Regions from separate parts of the Homo sapiens genome. Here region 2 is linked to region 1. The links come from fine-mapping of genetic effects on gene expression. Tissue or cell type: whole blood. Region 1 holds a variant in brackets; the other region holds the start of a gene. All regions are shown on one strand. Distances are between the middles of the regions.

Evidence for each region. PIP is the estimated chance that this variant, and not a neighbour inherited with it, causes the effect.
Region 2: it holds the start of LTBP3, and the variant in region 1 is fine-mapped to the expression of LTBP3 in whole blood (TOPMed, PIP above 0.99).

Annotation. Positions count from the first base shown.
Region 1 is chr11:65,505,914-65,514,013 of GRCh38, forward strand. It overlaps MALAT1 (metastasis associated lung adenocarcinoma transcript 1), which reads left to right. Exons shown (of 1, transcript NR_002819.5): 1 at 1-603. It also overlaps TALAM1 and MASCRNA. Among named protein-coding and RNA genes, the nearest start is that of MALAT1, 11 kb to the left of the region's middle. RefSeq lists enhancers at 859-958, 1,459-1,768, 1,481-2,162, 1,879-1,948. The variant C/A (reference allele first, on the strand shown) is at 3,477.
Region 2 is chr11:65,553,877-65,561,974 of GRCh38, forward strand. It overlaps LTBP3 (latent transforming growth factor beta binding protein 3), which reads right to left and starts at 4,483. Exons shown (of 28, transcript NM_001130144.3): 1 at 3,753-4,483; 2 at 175-504; 3 at 1-27. The coding sequence starts at 4,083. RefSeq lists silencers at 4,312-4,551, 4,602-4,761 and an enhancer at 7,253-7,916.

The sequences.
Region 1 (8,100 bases):
GGTGGGAATGCAAAAATTCTCTGCTAAGACTTTTTCAGGTGAACATAACAGACTTGGCCAAGCTAGCATCTTAGCGGAAGCTGATCTCCAATGCTCTTCAGTAGGGTCATGAAGGTTTTTCTTTTCCTGAGAAAACAACACGTATTGTTTTCTCAGGTTTTGCTTTTTGGCCTTTTTCTAGCTTAAAAAAAAAAAAAGCAAAAGATGCTGGTGGTTGGCACTCCTGGTTTCCAGGACGGGGTTCAAATCCCTGCGGCGTCTTTGCTTTGACTACTAATCTGTCTTCAGGACTCTTTCTGTATTTCTCCTTTTCTCTGCAGGTGCTAGTTCTTGGAGTTTTGGGGAGGTGGGAGGTAACAGCACAATATCTTTGAACTATATACATCCTTGATGTATAATTTGTCAGGAGCTTGACTTGATTGTATATTCATATTTACACGAGAACCTAATATAACTGCCTTGTCTTTTTCAGGTAATAGCCTGCAGCTGGTGTTTTGAGAAGCCCTACTGCTGAAAACTTAACAATTTTGTGTAATAAAAATGGAGAAGCTCTAAATTGTTGTGGTTCTTTTGTGAATAAAAAAATCTTGATTGGGGAAAAAAGATGGGTGTTCTGTGGGCTTGTTCTGTTAAATCTGTGGTCTATAAACACAGCACCCATAATTACAGCATAATCTTCAAGTAGGGTACGGACTTTGGGGGATTGGTGCGAGGGTAGTGGGTGAGTGGCCTACTAAAAAGCCCAGTAACCCCCACAGGAAAATAGGGAACTTCTTTTTAAGTAGCCTCCTTTCCACTATTTAGTAATTGGCTGTGAGCTGGGCTGGGGGAGAAATGGGGCGGGGTGTGTGTGTCATTGGAAAGCTCTCTTTTTTGTTTTTTTGAGACAGTCTCACTTTGTCCCCCAGGCTGGAGTGTAGTGGCATGATCTCTGCAAACTGCAACCTCCACTTCTGGGGTCCAAGTGGTTGTCCTGCTTCACCCTCCCTGTAGCTGGGACTACAGGTGCACACCACCACGCCTGGCTAATTTTTGTATTTTCAGTTAGAGACGTGGTTTTACCATATTGGCCAGGCTGGTCTCAAACTCCTGACCTCGTGTGATCCACCCGCCTGGGCCTCTGAAAGTGCTGGGATTACAGGTGTGAGCCACCAAGCCTGGCCGATCCTTTTAAGTTTTTAAACCAGTTAAGCTCTTTGGTTCCCCCTCAGAGTCCCAAGGTCCTGGGTCACTCAGGATCACATTTTCCTTTAATCAGTTGTCACTGGTCCCCTTTTGTCCCTTTGAACGTGCTGTGGGATTAGTAGCAGCATCTGGCTGTTGGAAGGACTGGCTGGGATCTCAGGTGAAATACCCTCCCTGGCCCTCCTTACCCTTAAGATCTCCCTGAAAAGTCAGACCTTGCTTATTGGAGTTTGAGATGCATTCTAGTAAACCCAGACCTACCAGAGAGAGGGACCCACGTCTGAAGAATCTTCCAGCCTGGGGAACCTGTGACTGGCCACACCCTTAGCCTAATGGAGGGGCCTCAGAAGCAGAACTACCTTTTTTTTTTTTTTTAATGGTATTACATTTTGCAAATGGAGAGGTAGACTCTGATTGGGCCCCTTTTGACAACGCAGCAGAGCTGAGGTTTGAATCCTAGTCAGTCAACACTTCAACCCCTATGTTGCTGTTTCTTCAATGTCTAGAATGTTCTGATAGATGAAGCAATGGCCCGGCAGGTCAGCAGCACACCAACCCCCAACCTACCCAGCCTGTATAGGCCTTGGCCACAGGAGCTTTCTCTTCCCTTGAAGTGATCTAATGGGGGATGGGGTATCTGTCTCGCTGGTTATGAAAGAAGCTGAGCTAGGTGCTCTCCTAAGTTGCTTAAGTGTCTTCTGAATTGATGCCCAGTCAGTTTCGTATGGAGAAAGGTCTCTGTTTTTCCAAAGCAGAAGGTTCTGTGGAAGCACAAATACTTTACTGGAGAGCAAAGGAGTACGAGTAGGAATTGGGGGCCACGCACAGTGGCTCACGCCTATAATCCCAGGACTTTGGGAGGCCGAGGTGGGCAGATCACCTGAGGTCAGGAGTTCGAGACCAGCCTGACCAACATGGAGAAACCCCATCTCTACTAAAAATACAAAATTAGCCGGGCGTGGTGGCGTATGTCTGTAACCCCAGCTATTCGAGAGGCTGAGGTAGGAGAATCGCTTGGACCCGGGAGGCGGAGGTTGCAGTGAGCTGAGATTGCGCCACTGCACTCCAGCCTGGGCAACAAGAGCGAAACTGTCTCAAAAAAAAAAAAAAAAGAAGAAGAAAGGCTGGGCACGGTGGCTCAAGCCTGTAATCCCAGCACTTTGGGAGGCCGAGGCGGGCGGATCACGAAGTCAGGAGATTGAAACCATCCTGGCTAACACGGTGAAACCCCGTCTCTACTACACACACACACACACACACACACACACACACACACACACACACAATTTGCTGGGCGTGGTGGAGGGCGCCTGTAGTCCTAGCTACTCGTGAGGCTGAGGCAGGAGAATGGCGTGAACCTGGGAGGCGGAGCTTGCCGTGAGGTGAGATCGGGCCACTGCACTCCAGCCTGGGCGACAGAGCGAGACTCCGTCTTAAAAAAAAAAAAAAAAAAAAAAAGAGTAGGAGCTGGGCATTCGCCAGGGGCTACGTAGTTCCTGGAGTTGAGGAAGTTCTCCAGGATTGAAAAATGTAAAGATCAGACACTGATCACAGCAACAGGAGGAGGCAGAAAAGTAGGCCGGAAGTCATTTCCACCCTCTGAGCACAAAATGGAGAGCATAAATTCCCCAAAAGCTCCTGTCCAAGTCAAGGGGACTGCGCTTTTTTTTTTTTTTTTGGAAACAGAGTCTCCCTCTGTCGCCAGGCTGGAGTGCAGTAGTGTGATCTCGGCTCACTGCAACCTCCGCCTCCTGAGTTCAAGCGATTCTCCTGCCTCAACCTTCCGACTAGCTGGAACTACAGGCGCGCCACCACGCCCAGCTAATTTTTGTATATTTAGTAGACGCGGGGTTTCACCATGTTGGCCAGGATGGTCTCGATCTCTTGACGTCGTGATCCTCCCGCCTCGGCCTCCCGAAGTGCTGGGATTACAAGGATGAGCCACCGCGCCCGGCCGACTGCTCTTAATAATATAAACAAGCCCTAGGCATTCCCCATATGTACTCCTCCAGTTGTACACAGGGACCTCAGTTTTTTCTTTTTTTTTTCTTTTTTCTTTTCTTTTCTTTTTTTTTTTTTTTTTTGAGACGGAGTCTCGCTCTGTCGCCCAGGCTGGAGTGCAGTGGGGCAATCTCGGCTCACTGCAACCTCCACCTCCCAGTTCAAGCGATTCTCCTCCCTCTGCCTTCCGAGTAGCTGAGACTACAGGCACACGCCACAACGCCCAGCTAATTTTTGTATTTTTAGTAGAGATAGAGTTTCGCCATGTTTGCCAGGCCAGTCTGGAACTC[C/A]CGACCTCAAGCGATCTGCCTGCCTTGGCCTCCCAAAGTGCTAAAATTACAGGTGTGAGCCACCGATCCCGGCCCACAGTTTTGGATTTCATCATCCTGATAATCCTGAGTTCAAGGGGCAGCTCCACCATTCCCCAACCCCTCCAAAACCTACCCTCTCAAGCCCCTCAGACCGAGGATCAGGGGCTGGTTGGTATGGACCTGTGTGAGATTTGGTTTGTTTTTGTTTTTGATACAGGGTCTCATTTTGTAGCTCAGGTTGGAATGCAGAGGCACAATCTAGGCTCGGCTCACTGCAACCTCTGCCTCTCAGGCTCAAGTGATCCTCCCATCTCAGCCCCGGGGTAGCTGGGATTATAGGAACACCTGCCACCACACCTGGCTAATTTTTTTTTTTTTTTGAGAAGCAGTCTTGCTCTGTCACCCAGGCTGGAGTGCAATGGTGCAATCTCGGCTCACTGCCTGCCACCTCCACCTCCTGGGTTCAAGCAATTCTTCTGCCTCAGCCTCTGGAGTAGCTGAGGCTACAGTTGTGCGCCACCACACCTGGCTAATTTTTTTGTATTTTTAGTAGAGACAGGGTTTCACCCTATTGTCCAGGCTGGTCTCAAACTCCTGACCTCGTGATCCGCTGTTTTCGTTTGGTTTGGGGTTTTTTTTTTTTTTGAGATGGAGTTTCATTCTTGTTCCCCAGGCTGGAGTGCAATGGCGCGATCTCCGCTCACTGCAACCTCTGCCTCCCGGGTTCAAGCAATTCTCCTGCCTCAGCCTCCTGAGCAGCTGGGATTACAGGCATGCGCCACCATACCTGTCTAGTTTTGTATTTTTAGTAGAGACGCGGTCTCTCCATATTGGTCAGGCTGGTCTGGAACTCCCGACCTCAGGTGATCCACCCGCCTCAGCCTCCCAAAGTGCTGGGATTACAGGCTTGAGCCACCACTCCTGGCCTAATTTTTGCATTTTTATTTTATTTTATTTATTTATTTATTTATTTATTTTTGAGACGGCGTCTTGTTCTGTCGCCCAGGCTGGAGTGCAATGGCGCGATCTCAGCTCACTGCAACCTCTACCTCCCAGGTTCACGCTATTCTCCTGCCTCAGCCTCTTGAGTAGCTGGGATTACAGGCACTCACGACGGTGCCCAGCTAATTTTTGTATTTTTAGTAGAGACGGGGGTGTCCGCCATGTTGGCCAGGCTGGTTTCGAACTCCTGAACTCAGGTGATCCGCCTCCCTCGGCTTTCCAAAGTGCTGGGATTACAGACTTGAGCCACTGCACCTGGCCCGGGCCGAGTACTTCTGACTTCAGGAAATGGATGAAATTACCAGACTTAGGGGAAGGGAACAGTGTGGGGAAGAGATCTGGGAGGGTTCTCATTCATGGGTTGTTGATTTGGAAGACCAGAAACCTGGCTCTGACAAAGCAGTGTTCTTTACGCCTCTGTTTTCCTATCTTTAATTGGGGACAGTGCTCTGTCAGTTTACTGTGACAAGCAAGAGTAGCCACAGTAGACCCACCTGGAAGCAACTAGAAATGACTTGGCTCTTGCTGCCATCTAGTGAACAAATTGGGCATTGCATGCGTTAGCTTTGGAATACATTGTAATACACTTGTTCAACAAACTTTTTTTTTTTTTTTGAGACTGAGTCTCACTCTGTCACCCAGGCTGGAATGCAGCGGTGCCATCTTCACTCACTGCAACCTCCGCCTCCTGGGTTCAAGCAATTCTCCTGTCTCAGCCTCCTGAGTAGCTGGGATTACAGGCTCCCACCACCACGCCCGGCTAATTTTTGTATTTTTAGTAGAGACAGGGTTTCACCATGTTGGCCAGGCTGATCTCGAACTCCTGACCTCAGGTGATCCACCTGCCTCAGCCTACCAAAGTGCTGGGATTACAGGCGTGAGCCACTGCACCCGTCTCAACAAGCATTTTTATTGCTGAGTAATACTCCCTTGTGTGGATATACCATGAAATTATTTTTAAAAATATTGGCTGAGGGCTGGGCGCGGTGGCTCATGCCTGTAATCCCAGCACTTTGGGAGGCCGAGGAGGGTGGATCACCTGAGGTTAGGAGTTCGAGACCAGCCTAGTCAATATGGAGAAACCTCCTCGTCTCTACCAAAAATACAAAAATGTTACAAACCTCACATTCGACACATGTATCCCAGGACTTAAAGTTAAAAAAAAATTATCTGAGTGTGATGGCACATGCCTGTAATCCCAGGTACTCGGGAGGCTGAGGCAGGAGAATTGCTTGAACCAGCGAGGCAGAGATTGCAGTGAGCCGAGATCATGCCATTGCACTCCAGCCTGGCCAACAGTGAGATTCCATCTCAAAAAAAAAAAAAAAAAAAAATTAAGGCCAGTCTCAGTGGCTCACGCCTGTAACCCCAGCACTTTGGGAGGCCAAAATGGACAGAACACTTGAAGTCAGGGGTTTGAGACCAGCCTGGCCAATGTGGTAAAACCTTGTTTCTACTAAAAATACAAAAAAATTAGCTGGGCGTAGTGGCACACATCTGTAATCCCAGCTATTCGGGAGGCTGAGACATGAGAATCACTTGAACCCAGGAGGTAGAGATCACGTCACTGCACTCCAGCCTGGGTACCAGAGTGAGACTCTGTTTAAAAAAAAATAAAAATTAAGAGTGGCTGGGCATGGTGGCTCACGCCGGTAATCCAAGTACTTTGGAAGGCTGCAGAGGGTGGATCTCTTGAGGCCAAGAGTTTGAGACCAACATGGCCAACACAGCAAGACCAAAAATATACAAAAATTAGCCAGGCGTGGTGGCTGGCTCCTGTAATCCCAGCTATTTGGGAGGCTGAGGCATTGCTTGAACCCAGGAGGTGGAGGCTACATTAGGCCGAGATCGCACCACTGCACTCCAGCCTGGACAACAGAGCAAGACTCTGTCTCAAAAAACAACAACAACAAAAAAGAGATTGTGTCTTGCTTTGTTATCCAGGCTGGTCTTGAACTCCTGGACTCAAGGGATCCTCCCACCTCAGCCTCCCAAAGTGGGATTACAGGTGTGACCCACTGCACCCAGCACTGGTGTTTTTTGTTTTGTTTTGGGACATGGTCTCACTTTGTCGCTGTTGCTCAGGCCGCAGTTCAGTGGCAGGATCTCAGCTTACTGCAGCCTCTGCCTCCTGAGCTCAAGCCAGCCTCCCACCTGAGCCTCCCAAGTAGCTGGAACCATACAGGTGCATACCACCATGCCTAGCTAATTTTTTTTTTAGATGGAGTTTCACTCTTGTTGCCCAGGCTGGAATGCAATGGCACGATCTTGGCTCACTGCAACCTCCACCTCCCCAGTTCAAGCAATTCTCTTGCCTCAGCCTCCTGATTAGCTAGGATTACAGGCATGCACCACCATGCTAGGCTAATTTTGTATTTTTAGTAGAGATGGGTTTTCTCCATTTTGGTCAGGCTGGTCTCTAACTCCTGACCTCAGGTGGTCTGCCCGCCTTGGCCTACCAAAGTGCTGGGATTACAGGTGTGATCCACCGCACCCGGCCTTAATTTTTTTATTTTTAGTAGAGATGGGGTCTCTCCATGTTGCCCAGGATGGTCTGGAACTCCTGAGCTCGAGTGATCCTCCCGCCTCAGCCTTCCAAAGTGCTGAGATTACAGGTGTGAGCCGCCTCGCCTGGCCACAGTTGCGTATCTTCTTTGGTGAAGTGTCTGTTCATTTGTGTTGTGTTTTTCTCTTTTCTTTTCTTTTCTTTTCTTTTCTTTTTAAGACGGAGTCTCCGTCTGTCGCCCAGGCTAGAGTGCAGTGTTGCGATCTCGGTTCACTGCAACCTCCACCTCCCAGGTTCAAGCGATTCTCCTGCCTCAGCCTCCCAAGTACCTGGGATTGAAGGAGCGCCCCACCACGCCCGGCTAATTTTTGTTTTTTTAGTAGAGACCGGGTTTCACCAGGTTGGTCAGGCTGGTCTTGAACTCCTGACCTCAAATGATCCACCCACCACGGCCTCCCAAAGGTGTGAGCCACCGTGCCCAGCCATTTTGTGTTTTTTTTTTCTTGCCATTGTTGTTGGCATTTTTATCTTTTGTTGAGTTGTAAGGGCTTTTACATATTCGAGATAGAAGTCCCTTGTCAGATTTTTTTTCTTTTTTTACTTCTGTTGTATGTTTATTATTTATTTTGTATTTTTTGAGACGGAGTCTCGCTCTGTCGCCCAGGCTGGAGTGCAGTGGTGCAATCTCAGCTCACTGCAACCTCTGCCTCCCGGGTTCAAGCAATTCTCCTGCCTCAGCCTCCCAAGTGGCTGGGATTACAGGCATGCACCACCACACCCCACTAATTTTTGTATTTTTAGTAGAGACAGGGTTTCACAATGTCGGCCAGGCTGGTCTCAAACTCCTGACCTCAAGAGATCTGCCTGCCTTGGTCTCCCAAAGTGTTGGGATTACAGGCATGAGCCGCTGCCCGTGGCCTGTTTTATGTTTAGATATATGTTTTGCAAAAGTTTTATCCCAATATGTGTCTTTCTTTTCATTTTTTTGTAACAGTGTCTTTGAGGAGTAGAAGTTTTAAATCTCTTTTTTTAAATTTTTATTGTTACAAATGTTTACTTAATAAAAAGCTTAATATAAAAATGCACATGGCCCAG
Region 2 (8,098 bases), 48 kb after region 1:
CATTCACCACGGGGGGCGGGGCCTGCACTGGGGGCGGGCGCGGTGGCCTCAGGGCTGCCCGCACCGCGCCGCGGGTCACCGCGCTGAGCTCCTCCAGGGCTGAACCTGCCCTGCCCTGGCCACCCTAGTGCCCACCCACTGGCGACCTTCCCGGGTTTGCCAGTTGCCTGGTACCTTCTGCTGAGATCTGTCCCGGGCCTAGGGGCACCAGGAAGGCTGCGTGCTGGGCAGGAGGCCCCTCCCCGGGCCCAGGAGGGTCAGCGATCACCTGGACGGCGTAGATGGCGTGCTTGCTGGCCACAGAGTCGCCCTCCGGAGCCAGGGGCGGCAGCGCCCCTGTGGACAGGGCCCCTGTCCTGCTCAGGCCGGGGCCTGAGCCGCCGGTACCCCCACCGGCTCCTCCTGCGGGCACCTGGCAGAAGCGCCCAGTGAAGTCCGGGGGACACAGGCACTGGTTTCGCGAGGAGCACTGGCCGCCATTCATGCAGGGGAGAGGGCACACCACTGGGGAGAAGAGTGGGGTCAGGCCCTCACCCACATCCTGTCTCTTTCCCCTCCTCCCTACTTCCTTGCCACCCACTGGCTCTGTCCTCTTGGGAAGCCAGGTTTTGAGATACATCCTACATAGGGAAACTGCCCTCTCTAGGTTCCCCAACATCCTTACACCTATGTTGGGTTCTGGAGTCTCAAGTCCAGGATTTAAATCCTCGCTAAGCCATGTGCCAGCTGTGCGACCCTGAGCAACTCACGTCCCCTCCCTGTGCCCCAGCGTCCTCATCTGTAGAGATGTGTGGGTTAGATGAGGTAAGGGCTGTACAAATGCTTACCCCAGGGCCTGGTACACAAAGGGTGCTTAATAAGTGGTAGCAAATAATTATGGTGATCTGGCTTTCCCCTTGAGCCTTCCAAAGGTATTGGCTCCGTCCCTGGCGCCTCCTCCTCTTCTCCCATAAACCCTTCCCTCCTTCAGGCCTCAGTCCTCTCTGCCTGCTCTCCACCCTCTCCCTCTTCACCATCCTGGGGCGCCCACCTCACCACTGCCAAAGATGTCCACATCTCAAGACACAGACACAGCCCCCAGCCTTTCCAGGGCTCTCTCAGGCACCTCTGCCCAGGACATACTGTCAGAAGTCAGCATCCTGCCTCCCCACCTCCTCTTCACCTGGCCACCAGGCATCCACAGCTGAGCCCCGACGGCTCCGTCCCTCCTGCTCTCCCCTGCCCAGTTACAGCCTCTAATGTCCCATGAACCTGCCTCCCCTCCTCCCTAGGGCCACTGCTCCTGCCCTGGCCCAGGCCTGGCCACCCAGACCCCTCCTTGGCTTCCAGCCTCTCCTGCTGGTCCACAATCTCAGTGTCCCAGAGAAACCTGCCTCAGGCAGAAGCTCACTCCATGGACCAGAACCTTTTCAGCCCATCCCCCTCTGCTCCTTCCCTGTGTACTGCACACCCCAGGACCCATCTCCCTCTTGCAAATGTGCCTGCCTCCTGCCTCCTGGCCTCATCCATGCCCTTCCCTCCACAACAGGGCCCCAGGTCCCCCCCCTCTCTATATATGCAGATCTCATCCTTCCTAGCTCAGTGTCTCCACCAGGAGGGAGGCTTTCCTCCTATCCGGCCCCCCTGAGCTCCCTCTCCTGCCTTACCACCCACTGGCCAGCTCTGCCTGGCACCTGCTTGGCTATGTTCTTGTCTGTCTGCCTCCTTATAGAGGGTGCTCTGGAAGGCAGGGCCAGGCTGGCCTCAGCTCTGGGTCCCACAGGGGGTTCGGGGGAATGAATGAAAGAATGACTGAGGGAGAGGATGGGACCTCTGTCTGTTTCTGTCCCATACTCACCTTCAACCTGTGCTACTACCAGCCTTGGGGCTCTGACTCATCCCAAAGCCCCAGCCCTTCTCCTGCCCACCCCATGGCTGCCCTCACTTCCCAGGGCAGGAGGGCAGGAGGGCGGGGGTGCTGCTCTCCTGGATGCCAGAAGGGCCTCACAGGGACAGCCCATATCCATGGCCCTCAGGGTCAGGCTAAGCACATCCCAGCCCAGCCCATCCTGCCTGGCCTCTTGGGGCCAGGCCTCACAGAGCAGAGGGGTGTGTCCTGGGCGGGGGGAGGTAGGATTCTCTTTTTCCTTTCTGCCAGTGAGTCACTCATAGCGGTGAGAGTGACCTCCCAATGACACCCGCCCACTGTGGCCTGGGCACCGAGCCTGGGGGATGTGGGCAGCACAGATGGAGACAGCAGCCTGGGCAGGATGGCCAGGGAGCCTGGGAGATGGACACACGTACACTCACACCCACAGTCCTCTTGTCACACACACACAGAGACTCATCCTGACACCAACACAGGTTCACATAAACATTCCCATACATTTGGCCGGGCGCAGTGGCTCACACCTGTAATCCCAGCACTTTGGGAGGCCGAGGCAGGTAGATCACTCGAGATCAGGAGTTTGAGACCAGGCTGACCAACATGGTGAAACTCCATCTCTACTAAATACAAAAAAATTGGCCAGGCGTGGTGGCGCATGCCTGTAATCCCAGCTACTTGGGAGGCTGAGGCAGGAGAATCACTTGAACCCAGAAGGGGGAGGTTGCAGTGAGCTGAGATTGCGCCATTGCACTCCAGCCTGGGTAACAAGAGCAAAACTCCATCTCAAAAACACAAAAACAAAAACATTCCCACATACTCTCTAACAGCGACTAGAGACACACACCCAAGACAACACAAAGACGGGTACTTCACAGTGTGCCACGCCATGCCCATGGCATGACCCCAGACACAGGGGCAATATGCGCACAGACACACGCACGCACACCCCATCTCATGACAAATTTGAGCCACATGAGTGGGGTTCCTTAGCTCTGTGAGTGGGAGAGTGAATATAGGAATGTGTAAGAGGGGCTGTTTTGCTGGTGCCATCCTGGGCCTGGCCTAATTACCCTGTCCAGGAGGGTAATTACTGCTGGGACACCTCCCCGAGCCTGGCCCACGGGGCCTAGCAGGAGGATGACTGAGCCCCAGGCCTGGCCCTTTAAAGAGAGATGCTGGGGAGGGGGTGGACTCCAAGCTGAACTGGGGAGGGTGTAGGGGCTTGGGGGAGGATGAGGGGGGCCCTGAGGGCCTCTGAGGCAGGATGTTAGGAGCTTATGGGGAGGCATTGGAAAAGGAGAGGCTGAGAACCCCGAACTAGTCCCTACCTTCAGGCCTGCACCCTACTTTTAGGCCTCAACACCCTCCCTACTCAGACCTTGCCAGTAGCCGGCTCCCATCCCCAGCCCTGACCTTAGCTCCTCCTCCCAGGGAATGCAGGTGTCTACTCTGGCAGGCCCTACTTTAGACATTTTGTAAAGACTTTTCTTGTTTCTTCCAGCAAGTCTGCTTCTTGCGGGAATATTTAGCCCTTCTCTGAGGCTTCCTGTCCCCGGCTCACATTCCTCAAAAACCCTGTGTGCTCCTGCTCAGAACTCAGCACCTTCTGGGAAGCCAGTGTCATCCAGGACCTCTGCATTTCCCCACCCCTTAGGCCCCAACCCTAACGCAAAGCTTCAAAGTCCAGGCCTCCATGCAGCCCTCCAACTCTGGCCCCCAGAGTTCCAGCCTCCCAAGTTCCCTGAGGCCCCTGGTCCCCCAGGCCCTCGGATCTCTGCCCTTTATACCCTCAGCCCCCAGTCTCTAAGGCCAAGACCCCACTAGCTCTCCCACCGGGCCTGGTGCCTGTCCTTCCCCTGCCCCCAGCCGTGCCCCCGGCCCTCACCCACGCGGAAGCCGGAGCCCGTGAGCGTGTCTGTGCTGTGGCCGTTCTCTCCGATGAGCGTCATGTTGGAGCCCTGCTGACAACTGTCCCGACACTGGCCCTTGAGACAGGTCCGCTTGCAGATCACCGGCGCAAAGACCACCTTGAAGCGCTCGCGGGCCAGCGCCCCGCCCCCGCCTGCGCCCCGCTCGCCGGCCGGCCCCCCCTCGACCCTGCCGCCCAGGCCCAGCAGCAGCAGCAGCAGCAGCAGCAGCAGCGCCAGCAGCCCCGCCGCCCCCGCCCCGCGCATCTCAGGGGCCAGGCCGCCAGCAGCCCCTCGGGGCCCGGGCATCCGGGGCCGCAGGACCCGGGGGAGGGGGGGCGCGCCCGGGCGGGGCGAGGGGCCCGCGCCCGAAGGGAGTAGAGGGCCGGGAGCCCCGGGAGAGGGTAGGGGGCAGCGAGGGAGGGCAGCGGGGGAAGCGGGCGGGAGGGGACCGCGGGGGCCCGGCGGGAGGCGCGGAGATGCAGACTGGACAGCGGGGAGCGCAGAAACTTCCCAGCCCCAGGACGAAGCCCAGACCAGGCCCCGAACTCAGGCAGGAGCGAGGAGGCCGGAGCAAGTTGAGGCGGAGAGGAGGAGCGAGGGAGAGGAAGGCCGGGCGGCCGGCCCGCTCCGCGCCTCCCCCTGGCCGGGCTCCTCTCCCGCGGCCGCGGGGAGGCAGGGAGCGCGCGGGGAGGGCTCAGGGAGAAGTGAGCAGTTGTTTTCCCTGGCTGGAGCGCGGCGCGGCGGCGGCGAGGGGGGCTGGGACGCTGGCCCCGGGCCAGGGACACAGTTTTTTTTTTTTTGTTGTTTAAAGCGTCGCCTCTGCCGCCTGGAGAAGCGAGGGTGTGCAGGCTGGCGGAGGCTGGGGGGTGGCGCGGGGACAGTCCCCACCCCAGATGCCCGCCCCCGCCGGAACCCGCGGCCGCGCTGGGCCCTTTCCAGAGGGCCCTCACCTGGGACCGTCTGGCCGGCCGCGGATTCCTCCGGGCGGGGCGGGGCGGGGAGGCCTGCGTAGAGCGAGATACCGAGGCTGAGGGAGAGAGGTGGCCCTGCCGGGTCACACTGACGATGGAGGCCGGGTGGAGCCGGAGCCCAGGCCTTCCAGCTCTTTCCCAGCCTCCCTTGCAAACGTGGGGGTCTCAGGGCCCCAAAGTAACTTCTCGTTAGTGCTGGTCCAATCCCCTCTGAGGAAAGGGCTAAAGGGTGGGGACAGCCTTTGGCCAGGGCTCACGGAGGTCCCAGGAGGAAGTCTGTGGGGTCCAGAAGAGGAGCAGAAAGAACAAAGCTAGAACCCAGCTTCCCTGCCAGCCCCCTCGGAATGGCTTCCTGGTGCCCACCCTGCCACCTCCCCCCTTTCCTTTCGTCTGGCCGTGCTGGCGGGGCTGGCTCTGGGCCTCAGACACTCTGGAATCGCCAAGGTCTGAGCTCAGGGCCTGGCCCCCTTCCCAGGCTAACAGCCGGGAGGACGGGGGCGCTGTCCGAGGGCCCAGGGGCTGGAGAGGGGCACAGCAGAGCCCCAGGGCAGGGGCTGGCAGCGGCTGGGGGTGGGGGTCTTCAGGTTGGCCATGGCTGGAGAGGAGCATAGTTCCAGACCAGGCTTGTCCGCTGGTCTGGAAGGAAAGGCTGCAACGTGCGGGGGCCCAGGCCTTACTGTGGGGCCTGCCAGGAGACCCCAGGGTTCCGTCTCTGACTCACAGAACTCAGCAGGAGGTGGGGACGGCTAGGGCACATCCAGGAAAAGCGCTGCCAAGTCAGGGCGGCACCAGACCCTCTCCCGGACAGCACCCGGGGCAGCAGTCTAATTGGGGAGAGGAGGTTCAGGGACTCACTTTCAGGCACACCTGTCCAAGGAACTCTGTTTTTACTTTGAGCGTAAGTTGATGTGGGTAGCTTTAGGGGGACGCTTAGTAAGTCCCCCTTACTAAGCGGTGCAGGGCTGGGAGGGACAATCACATGTCCCCAGGGATCCCTGCTGCCGGAATCCAGGATGGGGTGTGAGGGGCAAGCCCCTGCTTCTTGGGGCCCTGGTCCACACGGAGGCAGGGAATAATGCTAGGTGCCGACCACCTGCCAGGCACAGGGCTGAGCATTGTATACTCATTTTTTCCTAACACTCATCTGAACCTGTCCTGACTCTGCCTAGAGCTGGCTGTGGCTCACCATGGAGCACAGCACAGTCAAACAGTCCAGGGTTGGATTCTTACTGTCTCTAAGCCCCAGTTTCCTTGCTTGTGAGATGGGTATCTATTCACTCAACATCTATGTTCAACTACTGGTAATAAAAAACAAAAAATTAAAAAATAAATGTAAAAAATTCACTCAACAAACTGAGACTCCACCACATCCTAAGCTCTTGGCCACAAATAGAACCAGTCCTGCCTTCCTGGAGCTGCTGTACTAGGAGAGCTGGATATGTGCCAGATCAATTCACACAGAACTGTGGCTACAACAGAGGCTGGTACCGTGACAGAGAAGGGCAGGGAAGCAGGACAGGAGAGGGCTGGGACCTGGGAGACAAAGAGAGTCTTCCATCGGAAGCTGGAAGATGAGTAGGAGTGAGTCACACCTGTGGGCATCTGACCTCAGGGGAGGCTGCAGGGGGAGGCTATCCAGAGAACTGAGGGAAGGCCAGTGGAACAACAGGGTGTGGTGGAGAGGGAGAGCCGAAGGTGTAGTGGTGGTGGGAGGGGCCGGCCATGGTGAGGAATTTGCTTTTATTCTCATTGCAGTGGGACTGTGTCAGGGCAAGAGCGGGCACTCTGCCTTCATCCCAGGAGAGAGATCTCACTTGGCCCTGGGAGAGATGTATTTGGGAGGGGAGATGTAAAGACTGGGTGAAGTAGGGGTGCTGGAGAGGTAGGTGGCATGAATGGCCCCCAGATTCCTGGCCTGATCTCTGGATGGGCGAAGAAGAGGGGAGGCAGAGGAGCTGGAAACATGGGGCAGGGTCCACAGCTCTGTTCTGGTCCTGCTGAGTTTGAGATGCTTGTGAGTCATCCAAGTGGAGGTGCCCGAACCCGGGAGTCTGCAGCTCAGACAGGATGTCTGGCCTGGAGACAGAGGCTTGGGGTTATACAGGGGGCATCTACGACAGCGGGAAAGGGTGGGCTTACTATGGAGAGAAGAGAGCCCAGGGTGCCCAGGGAGATCACTGTTCCCGGGTCAGGGAGAGGAGGCGGAGTCAGGCAGGGAGAGGAGGCGGAGTCAGGCGAAAGACCAGAAAGAGCAGCTGGAGGGAGCAGAGAGGAAAACCAGGAGTGTGGTGGGGAAGAGCCAGGAGGACGGTGTGGCCCTCGGTGTCTAAAGCTGCTGCCAGTATGATGGGGGGATAACAGCCCTTCTTCAGGGGCTGATGAGGGGACTCAGTGAGAAGGATCAATGAAAGTGTCCAGCCCAGTAATGATGCCCAACTCAAATGATATCCAACCAAATTCCTTCAGCTCTCAGGGCCTCCGCAGGAAATAGCTGAAACCACTGGGGCTAGCAACAGAGGGACATCACTCCAGTGCACATTGCTCCACTGGCATAACCAGGGAGGGTGCCTGAGAGGTGTGGCCTGAAGCAGAGCAGCAGCCCCTGGCCCTCTGCAGTCTGCAGGGAGGGCGCTGGGGGAACAATTATCACCCTAATCTCTTCCTAGCCACGGGTCTCCAGCTGGGCCAACCGTGGGCTGAACCCAGAAGAAAGCCTGTGGGCTGAGGGGCCTGGGGGTACAGCAGGTGGAGCTTAGCTTTCCAGCTCAGCAGGGAGGTCAGGAATGCAGAAGGGGTCTGCAGGGCAAGCTGACAAAGCCCAACACACATGGTCTCTTTGGCCTGAACATCTTTTCTAACCTCATCACTACATGTGGCACCTCATTTGCCTAGAATCTGCCAGCACACTTTTTTTTTTTTTTTTTTTTTTTGAGACAGGGTCTCACTCTGTGCCAGGGCTGGAGTGCAGTGACATGATCTTGGCTCACTGCAGCCTCAACATCCCTTAAGCAGCCTCGAGGGATCCTCCCACCTAAACCCCCCCTCCCACCGCCGCCTCAGTAGGTGGAACCATAGGTGCACAACCATGCTTCGCTAACTTTAGGATTTTTGGGGTTTTTTTGGATTCTTTTGGAGACAAGCTCTTGCTCTGCTGGAGTGCAGTGGTACGATCTCGGCTCCACTCTGCAACCTTCATCTCCCGGGTTCAAGCGATTCTCATACCTCAGCATCCCCAATCAGCTGGGACTACACGCTCATGCCACCACATCTGGCTAAATTCTTTTGTATTTTTAGTGAAGATGGGGTTTCACTATGTTGGCCAGACTGGACTCAAACTCCTGACCTCAAGT